2 separate regions of the Homo sapiens genome follow, and region 1 is linked to region 2. The links come from fine-mapping of genetic effects on gene expression. A gene starts in region 2. The other region holds a variant in brackets. All regions are shown on one strand. Distances are between the middles of the regions. Region 1 holds the start of LOC124904211 (a long non-coding RNA gene). Region 2 holds the start of HS2ST1 (heparan sulfate 2-O-sulfotransferase 1).

Region 1 (5,384 bases), 58 kb before region 2:
AAGAGCTACCAAATAATTTTATCTCAATCAGAGAAAAGAAAAATTAAGGTGCCTTTTTTTATGCAGCCAATTAGCATTTTGAGCACTATAAATTACAACAGTACTTCTTCCTTTGCCTACCACCAAAATAGGAAAAGCTTAAAAAAAAAAAAAGAAAAAGCTATAATTTTAAAACACTGATCTCTTTTCCACAGAAAATGACTTTTAGATCACATGGAAAGTAACATGATTTTAAAATATGCGTATAAAACTTTTTTCTCTACCAAAGTCTTTGAGTACTTTGGAAGAGAATAAATTAAATTTAAGGTTCATGTAGATACATAAGGGTATGCCAACCGAACAAATCTTAAAAACTACAGATTACCAAATAATAACTTTCAGGAGCTCACCAGAATCCAGCCAGTTCTGTGGTTGCAAAGGGAAGAATAAAATTCTGTACTCAAAGGAGTCCCAAGAAGTTGACTTCAGTCAATTTGAACCTCTAGGTAATCAAACTCCATAGATAATCAATTTAAAAGATTCTAAAGAGACCAAAAGAGATCAGAAAGATCCTGAGTTTGGAATCTACTTAAGAAAAAGAATAACTTGAGAGTCTCAGACCTAAAGACATGCCAAAATGCGATGACTACTAAATGAAAACATTGTTTTTCTCCTATACTCACACAGAAACACCAGTGGGTCTTAATGTGTGGGTTTTCCATACCAAGCAATGCTCCAATTCTCTGCAGTCACCAACTGACTGTCCTACAATTTAACCCAATTCTGCTCAGAGTTAGTGCAGAACCCACAGCTTAAAGGTTCAGTCCCACAAGACTGTTCCCACTTCAGATGCCAGTTCCAAGTAAGGGTCCTCAGGTTATTCACAAACTTCTGTTTGGATTGGTTATAAATCAGAGGTTTCCATGACATCCTCCATTTGGTTTGATAATTTACTATGACAATTCACAAAACTCAGGAAAGCACTTTAGTTACATTTACCAGTTTATTATAATGAATGCAACTCAGAAACAGCCAAATGGAAGAGATGTGTAAGGCAAGGTAGAGGAGGTGCACAGAACTCCCATGGCCTCTCTGGACTCATTTCAATGCAACCTAGAAGCTCTCCAAATCCCACAGTTTAATAATTTTTAGCATTCATCATGTAGGTATAATCGATTATTAATTCAATCTCCAGTCCCTCTCCCCTTTCCAGAAGATGGGAGTGGGGCTGAAATTTCCAAGGTTCTAATTATGGTGTGGACTTTCTGGTGACCAGCCCCCATTCTGAAGCTATGCAGGAGCCCAAGTGTCACCCCATTAGAACAAAAGACTCTACTATCACCCCAAAAATTTAAAGGGATTTAGGAGTTCTGAGACAGGAACCAGGGTCAATGACCAAATATTAAAACAGAATATAGGACAGTACTCCTACAACTCAGGAAATTATAAGGGCTTTCATGTTCTCTGTGTCAGGAACTGGGGGTAGGACCAAAAATATATTTCTTACTCTGTCACAACTATAGACTTAAACTCTTAAATTGCTCTGCAAATGCTAAATTGTCACAAGACTCCTCTGGATAAGGGAGAGCTAGACGACTGATTTCTAAAACCTTAAGACTTATGAATTCTACATATCATATTTTATCCCATTAAATGGAAAACTGGGTTCAAGGAGAACCACCTTGGTTTTCAAATCAATTTCATTAAAATATAATTTGCCTACAATAAAATATACTCACTTCAAATGTACACTATAAGGTTTTGGGAAAAAAATTAAGATAGAAGATATTTCCTTCATCCCAAAAGGTTCCTCAGCTCCCTTTGGGTCAACTTCCCACTCTTAGCCCAAGGCAATCAACAATGTACTGGCATTGTAGACTAGTTTTGCCTTTCTAGAATTTCATATTTATCCCTTACTAATAATTCTGTGAGGTAATTTGAGGCCCAACAAAGGTAAGCAACTTGCACAACTTCACAGGACTCCAAGATTAGAATTTAGGGTTTGAAATCAGATCTGTCTAATGCCAAGGCCTACTATTAGGTGATACTACAAGATTTACATCTTGTTCATTTTCGCATCCCTAGCGTTTTTCATTTTAGCATACTTGATCATTGAATGATAAAATGAATTTAAGGAAACTGATCTAAACTTGATCCAAAAAAAAGGAAAGATTGATTTTGAATGATAAATCCATAGATCTTGGTAATTAGTTAGATTTAAAAAAAAAAAAGACCATAAATTTACACAAATTAAAAAAAAAATTTAAGAACAAAGAAAGATCCTTAGATTTTATCTGCATAGTCTCAAAGTGTCTCCCAAGAAATGTATTAACTGCAAATGGAAAGATAGCTTTACAGTGGAGAAACCCAGCAGAAACCACCTTAACAAGTGATCAAGGTTGCTATCACCAGTAAAGAAGACATACAT[C/T]GTGAACCCCATGACAAAAGACATATTGTTTCTGTGATATTGTTGTCAAATATGCATAACTCTGGCCCAATCATGAGAGCACATTGTACAAACTCAAAGTGTAGCCATAGAAGACAAAAAGTCTGCAGAACTATTATAGACTGCAGAATAAAGACAACTAAATCTAATGTGCAATCCTGGATTATATCCTGATCAGAAGAAAGGCATTAGAAGAAAAACACGTGGAATTCAAATAAGGCCTGCAGTTAATAACATATATGTCAACCTCCTAGTTTGAATAACTGTCCCATGGTTATGCAAAATGTTAACATTAGATGAAACTGTGTAAGGAACACAGTAGTCCCAGCACCCTATCCCCAGGGGATGCGCCCCAAGACCCCCAGTGGATGCTTGAAACTGCAAACAATATTGAACACTACATATGTACTAAGTTTTATCCTATACATACCTATGATTAAGTTTAATTTACAAATTAGGCACAATAAGAGATTAACAGCAACAATAATAAAATAGCCAGGTGTGGTGGTTCTTGGCTGTAATCCCAGCTACTTGGGGCTGAGCCAGGAGGATGGCTTGAGCCCTAGAGTTCAAGGCTACAGTGAGCTATGATTACACCACTGCACTCCAGCCTGGGCGATAGAATGAGACCTCCATCTCTTAAAAAAAAATAATTATTAAATAGATTATAATAACATTGTAATACAAGCCATGTGAATGTTCTCTCTCTCCCTCTCAAAATATTTTATTATACTGTACTCATCAATTTTCAGACCAAGGTTGACCTTGGCTAACTGAAACTAGAGAAAGTGAAACCTAGGATGAAGGAGGTATGTATATATGTAAACACAAAACGTTTTTTAAAAGGGGTCCTTAAAAATTTTTCTGAAACATTAACAACTCATAACCTTGCAACTGCAATAATGAATGCACTTAAACCAATCTTATGATGAAACTCTATGGTTAATTGTTGTAAAATTTAAATCATGCCAACTTTTACTGAACATCTTCTCTATGTAAATCAGTATAGAATGTGGTGACATAGTGATTCATTTAATAAACAAGTTATGACAAGTATAAAAAGTTGAAGGTTAAACTATTGAAAGAGCTAGTTCAAAACACAAAGCCAGTAATTCTGAAGAGTGATAGTTTTCATATCTTCTGAGATCAGAATACTTTTGCATTTTTTTTTTCTTTCAAGAATGAAGACTTCAACCTCGGTCAGAATATTAATACGTATTAACATTATAACCTCTTGTTGCACAAAATTCCTACAAATTCTTGATCAAAAACATGATGCAATGAAATAAAATTTTCAAGTCCTAACCAAACATAATGCAGTATATATGATAGATATACACTACAAGGGACTCTGTTTTGTTCAGAACAAAACTTTCTGCTGTGAAATGCTCATTTCCCTACTCTAAGATTGGACGTGTAAAGAAGCTATCACTTTTATTCAAATTCCACATCTTCATAGCCAATCTGTTAGATATAAGACTAGACATCTAACCATCTGACCTAAGCTGAGTACATAATAAAACCCCACCCTAGGTCCAATTTATATATTGGTTAGGGTTTTTTGGCTTAAAACAAATTTAAGAAATTAAAAATAAGAGTAAGAAGGAGGTGGTCCGTTTTATTGGAAAGACTGGAAGGATGCTTGGGTAGCTCACAGAACTGAAGAAATAACTAAACCGCCAAGGTTTTTTTTTGTTTTGTTTTGTTTTGTTTTGTTTTTTAAATAATGACAGGAATCAGAGGAGTTCTATAGGCCTTAACAGCACTAATGTATAGACCTTCCCTCTTGGATGCCACTATTTCCATGTCTAGCCAATTTAATTTCTTTGTTTGAGCAGAAACTTTATCTGAATTTTCCATCATTGTATCTCTAGCAACCAAACATGTAACAGGCCTTCAATAAATACTTGCTGACTGAATGAACTAATAAAATTAGTCAATAAAGTAATTCCTGAGTGAGAAAATCAAATTGGCCTAGCTTATTTCAGATATCTATCCCTAGATAATCAACTGATCTGGCATCAGTAGAAGACATTTTGGGGCCTTTTCCGTAAAAGAGAACTTGTCAATTGTGCTAACTGGCATCTATTATATATATAAATATTAAAATATTTGACCTGTAAATTATTTGTCATATCAAATGGAGTTTTCATGTACATTTTAAGTCCTCTAGATTTGCATTTCTGTACCACCCTTAAATTATTTCTATAATTTTTTCTCATAAATAATAAACAAAGGCCATGTGTGAACCAAAATAACTTTAAATGTGGACATTCACTCATGCCATCACCGGAAAAATTAAATAAAAATTACAGGCAGGGCACAGTGGCTCATGCCTGCAATCCCAGCACTTTGGGAGGCCAAGGAGGGTGGATCACTTGAGGTCAGGTGTTCGAGACCAGCCTGGCCAACATGGTGAAACCCCATTTCAAAACAAAAATTTGCCAAGCATGGTGGTGCACGCCTGTAGTCCCAGCAACTTGGGAGGCTGAGGCACAACAATCACTTGAACCCGGGAGGTGGAGGCTGCAGTGATCTGAGATCATGCCACTGCACTCCAGCCTGGGCAACTGAGCAAGACTCTGTCTCAAAAAAAAAATTATAAATTAAAATTATGCTTAAAATCTTTTAATTTATATTTCATTAAGCAGATTTTTCATTCAGTTTTTTTATTCACAACTGACCTATACTTCTTGTGGATTCTTCCCAGCACTGTTATGGCTTACAGAGGAAACTATTTTAATCATGTTTATTTGCATTAATACATTATTACTTGTAAAATGTGCATTGTTAGGATGAATAACCAAAACAAAATAAAATCATTCTGTTATAAAATGTTAAAGTTGTCTCTTTAACTAAATACTCATTTTTTTTTTTTTTTTGAGATGGAGTTTCACTCTTGTTGCCCAGGCTGGAGTGCAATGGCGCGATCTTGACTCACCGCGATCTCTGCCTCCCA
Region 2 (5,384 bases):
AAGAAAGCACTTTATATTTTAACTGTGGCATTATACATCTTCAGATAACTTTCTTTTAAAAATCATTCAGATTGTGTCTATGGAAGCAATTTTCAAGTATATGGGGAAAGAAATGTTAGGAAAGGAGGAAAATCAAAAATTTAAGTCATTCTAACCCACTGTAACGTGTCTAAGAAATCAACTCCAGACAATTCCAAATAGTAACAAAACAAAAAATAAGTACAAATTTTAATTTTAATATAACTTTCCACTTCAAGAGGAGTCTTTTTTTCTGTAGAGCTGGATCATTAATAACGCCAGAATATGACCCTGAATGTCGCTAAATGGATCCAAAAGAAAAGAAAAACCAGACTGGATAACCTTCAATATTTAAAGTGGACATTTTTTTCCACCACACAAGATACATATTAATAAAGGAATTCGTAAATAAACTGAGTATCTCTTCAAATTTTACTCTAGAATTGAGGGCTGGAAGTAACTCTAGTTTTCCTCCAACTTTAGTTGCACTTCACTCAGATTTACTTGATGGTTTTTCTTTCAAGGCTCTTTAAAATGTCAAGGCTTTTGCAAAGCCTTGTACCAAAATAGCTACTATACATAATATTACAATTATTTTCTGGTACATTTTTCCTAAAAATTAATCATCCACTCACAGTAACATCTATTTCTTAGTCTAAATTACACTGCTGAGGGTTTTTTGTTTTTGTTTTTGCTGGCTTCTCAAAAGGTATTTAAAATGATTTTGAGGTGAGAGTATGCAAAAAACACTTCACATTACTTTTCCATATTCAAATTACATCCTCTTGAGCTGATTTTTAAGTGCCATGTACATTTTTAAATCAAAATTTATCACTGTCATTCTTTTAACTCTCGCTCTCCATGCTGAGCTCTTCCAAATGCCAAAGTGCCCTATTAATCCGAAAGTACCTATTATCTGTGCTTTTTTCTGGCCTGTCTTTCACAACTTCACACCAACTTTTTGTACTTTAGACCCCCTCATCCATTAAAGCACCTGTTAACCCTTTAAGGTATTTAACCATATGGTTAGCTTTCCGCATAATCCTACTTTTCCTTTAACAAACACAAACTTCACTACATAATTCCCCTTCAGCGTTCCCTCCTCTTCGAAATTCACATCAACACTGCCGTGAAGCAACATACATAGGCATCCCTATTCTCAAGCCCCAATTCATCAGTTTAGCGCCACTAAAGAAGAATTTAAATCTCCGGACCCTCATTTCCGTACTCCGATGAAGCTTTGCACTCGCGTTCCCGCACTACCCGGCCAGCCTCCCTCAGCTGGCAATTACAAGGTCCTTTGCTGCCCGGAGCACAAGAGTGCAACTCGCTACAGTGTTCACATGTTGCTCTCCGTCATCCCAGCATCTCCTCCCATTTCTGCGCACCTATCCCTTCATGAGCCCCCAAAAGAATTCGTATCCAGATGCCCATAGCTCAAATTAGAATACCCCTCATCTGACATTGCCAGGGCTTCCTGTACGACTTCCAAGAGAACACGCGATGCTAAGCGCTTCTGTCTCCGGAGACCAGCAACACACGCTCCCCACTGAGTTCGGTCTTCTCTCTCGCTCTCTCTCCGCGGAATGCCTACTTCGGGGCTACCCTTTGGCTAGGGAAGCCCAACCTTGCAACCTCTGCCCCGTGACCTCGCGAGCCCAGCACGCCGCTCAAGCTTAATTCAACCCATTCTTGGAGCTCGTGCTCTCGCTGCCCCTTGTTCCCGGTTCTCTTTGAAACCGCTTTCAGCCCCCGAGCCAGACCCCAGGTTAGATGAACGCCCACTTGCTCCGGCGGCAGCGCCTCCTCGGCCCCTTCCACAGCACTCAGCCCGGGGCAGTTCAGTTCCTCACCTAGCTTCGAGCGGGACTCCTCCAGTTTCTGGATCTGGTTTTCCAAGAAGAGCATCGCCACCGCGAAGGCCACCACCGCCAGCAGCTGCAACTTGGGCGGCATCATAATCCTGAGGAGCCCCATGAAACCCGCTGCTCGGGATCAAGACATACCGCGGGGGGCGGGGAGCGGGACCCCGGAGGCGAGAGAGACGCCGGGAGGAGCCCGCCGAGCCGGGAGCGAGGCAAAGAGAGAGCGACAGCGAGAGAACCACCGCAGCGACCCCCCTTCTCGCCTCTCCAGTCCCCCTCCCCCAGGCGCTATCACCAACGCCGCTGGTGTCCGCTTCTCCTCAGCCGACTAAACGGCCGCCCCCTCCAAAAGCCCGCGCAGCAAACAGCGCGAAGCGGCTGCCGGGCTCTCGCCTCCCTCTACTGCCTCAGTCCCCGACCCCCGCGCCCGCCTGCTTGCCCGCCTCCCTCTCTTCCTTCCTTCCCTCCCTCCTTTGCTCGCGGCCGCGCGCCCCTCCACCGGCGCTGCGGCTGCGCCGCCCTCATCCCCGCCCCCGCCCATCCCCCTCCGCCACCACGCGCACGCATCCGCGTACGCTGCTCGGCAACCAGAAGCCCCGCCCCTCCCCCCGTTCGGGTCCGCTTATTGGACGGAAGAGCCCCTGCGCTTCGCTCTTGGTTCGGTTTACGGTTGGTTTCCTCTGCCACAGAGCTCAATCAAGACGACATTCAATTGGGTAAACTTGGAGAAGAAGGCGGGGCTAAAACTGGCGAAGGCGTGGCTTCTTGGCTGCTTGACGAAGTGTCGTGAATAAAAGAAAGGAGACCGCAGAAGTAAAGAAGTGGGGAGTTTAGGCAAGTGCCTGATTTGGGTAATCGAAAGCACCCAGTGATTGTATTTGATGACTTTTAAGCTTTCATATGCCGTTATTTAATACCTGTCACTTCCAAATGAGAGATGTAAGGGCAACGGCCGTTAGCGTTCTGTTTTGGATCAGGCTCTGGAGTGGACGCCCCTAGCTTAGGGGTCCTTCTAGGCAGCCAGAAACCTGCGGAAAATGGTAGCGATGGCGGCTGGGCCGAGTGGGTGTCTGGTGCCGGCGTTTGGGCTACGGTTGTTGTTGGCGACTGTGCTTCAAGCGGTGAGTGTAGATCACCTTCGCAGCTGCCACAGGGAGAGTAGGAGTGATTGCAGCTGAGAAAGACGCAACATTCGGTCCTGGTTGAAAAGGGTGGGGAGGACTGCGCTTCCTTAATGACTGCTGCGGCCAGAATGCAACGTGGCTTAATTTCTCGGTTGATCCTTCTCCTTCCCCGCCTTGGGTTTCTAGCAGCAGTTTTCTCTTGATTTCAGATTGTCTTGGGTACGTAGCTTCTCTTATACGGCTCTTGCTAAAAACAATCTGTAAACCACACCAGGTGGGAGGGGGGAATAATAAAGCTTGGCAAGAAGTGGAGGTTGTTTTTAAATGGACAGAAATGCAAGAGACTCATGACGAGACTTCCAACTCTTAGAGGCAAGTCTTCAAGTCGTTGGTCCAGGCGAACAGTTTGTGTTTACCTCTCTCGCGCGCGTGCTCTCTCATTTTCACTACTTCTGTTAGTCTCTTAACTTCCGTTCTCCTCTGCTATTCATATACGGCTGGCTGCGCTTGAGTGCGATTTGTGCTTTTAAACAATGTTGTTGGAGTAAAAGGAGTTATCTATACCAAAGTATAATTCATTTTTGAAGTTAGTTTTTTAAATGATGTTCGTTGTCTTCTTTAAGGCAGCGTTTTTTATTTCATTTTTCTCTATTGGCAGAATAGATGGGTGACCTTTGAATGGGAAAAGTGTACTTTTAACTTATTTCTTCTCATATCCATGTTCTGCTGTGTGAATAGTAAAATTTTAGGCACAGTGCTGAAAGCTTTTACGTTTTTTTATCCTAGCTTAATTCTTCGGGTAGTCTCTAATAAGGAGACCTGGTTTAATTTACTTATCCAAGGTTGAGGGTGTTAAGGGACTACACCGGAGTCCTCTATGAACACCTGTACTTACCTTTCTCAAAGAGCTTGAAAGCATCCTGGCTGTTTGCTTTGGCTACTTTAACCAAAAGGTAGATTCTTAACTTCTGTAATTAACATTCCAATTATCTTGTTATTCAGGCATTTGGTGCTAGGAATTACTGGATCACCTCTCCCTAAACTTTCTACTGTTTAAGGGTTTTTGCACATCTTTAGGTCATTCGAGATAACATTTCAGGTTGTCTTTTTTTGATCTCCCTCTGTCTTTGACTGTCAGTTGTCTATAGCTGTGTAACCGCCCTAAAACCTAGTAGCTTAAAACAGCAATGATTTCTCATAATTCTGGGTCAGTGGAGTAGAACTACTCCACCTATGTTGGTTTTCCCCTGGCCTCATTTATGCTTTTTGTTGACCTAGTAGGTCAGCTAAACCGAAAGGTTCCAGGATTACCACTGTTTATAGTTGGTGCTGTCAGCTCGAGGACTTGGTTCTGTTCCGTGTGACCTCTCATCCTCCAGTCGGCTAGACCAACTTCTTTTCATGGCACTCTCAGGGCAGCACTCCAAAAGAGCAAAAGCTACAATGCCTTCTAAAGCCTTGCCTTGGAAATCACATATATTACTTCCATCACATATTTCTCAAAGCAAGTCACAAGACTAGTTCACATTCAGGGATGGAGAAATAGATTTCATCTCTACATGGGAGGAATGACAGAGTCACTTTGCAAAGTGTGCATACCAGGATAGGAGGTATTTATGGAATTAACTAATTCCATATGTAATAATGATAGGAATTAATTAAACAGCGTACCACAGTGACTGTGCACAGAATCCAAACTAGAAATTTGGATGTCATGTTTGACTCCTTTCCTTACATATATCATATCCAGGGAATTACTGAAACTTACTGATTTTAATTCCTAAGTATCTCAAATCCATCCACTTATTGTTAATCACTCAGGCCATAAACATCTCTCTCCTCAGAAATAACAGCGTCTTGGTTCACCGTTTGAATTATCCCTGGCTGTATTCAGAATCTAAATGGTTGGCTTTGCCTTTGTCAGCTTCCCAATTGCCCAAGCCAAAAATTAGTCATTTTTGGCCAGTTGTGGTGGCTCATTCCAGTGCACTTTGGGAGGCTGAGGTGGGCAAATCACCTGAGGTCAGGAGTTCAAGACTAGTCTGGCCAACACGGTGAAACCCCGTCTCTAGTAAAAATATAAAAATTAGCTGGGCGTGGTGGCGCATGCCTACTCGGGAGGCTGAGGCAGGAGAATCACTTGAACCCAGGAGGCGGAGGTTGCACTGAGCCGAGATTGCACCATTGCACTCCAGTCTGGGTAACAGAGCAGGACTCTGTCTCAAAAAAAAAAAAAAAAATAGTCATTTTAAATCCTCTTTCCTTTCACTGTCTGAATTCAATTAGTCGTTAAAGCCTTAAAAATCTCTAAGCCAGTCCACTTAATAATTTTGTTTCCACAGTTAGTATTTATATTCAGGCTACTATCTTTGCCTAG

Evidence for each region. PIP is the estimated chance that this variant, and not a neighbour inherited with it, causes the effect.
Region 1: its variant is the best candidate, but not a certain one, in a credible set for the expression of HS2ST1 in whole blood (TOPMed, PIP 0.51).

What each region holds. Positions count from the first base shown.
Region 1 is chr1:86,970,049-86,975,432 of GRCh38, reverse strand. The region is part of intron 1 of HS2ST1 (heparan sulfate 2-O-sulfotransferase 1); the gene reads right to left. It overlaps LOC124904211 (a long non-coding RNA gene), which reads right to left and starts at 5,341. Exons shown (of 2, transcript XR_007066207.1): 1 at 390-5,341. The variant C/T (reference allele first, on the strand shown) is at 2,408.
Region 2 is chr1:86,911,648-86,917,031 of GRCh38, reverse strand. It overlaps HS2ST1 (heparan sulfate 2-O-sulfotransferase 1), which reads right to left and starts at 2,397. Exons shown (of 7, transcript NM_012262.4): 1 at 1,872-2,397. The coding sequence starts at 1,995. SELENOF (selenoprotein F) reads left to right here and starts at 2,906. Exons shown (of 5, transcript NM_004261.5): 1 at 2,906-3,004. The coding sequence starts at 2,921. RefSeq lists enhancers at 2,657-2,776, 2,827-2,986, 2,380-2,994, 3,097-3,146, 2,995-3,609.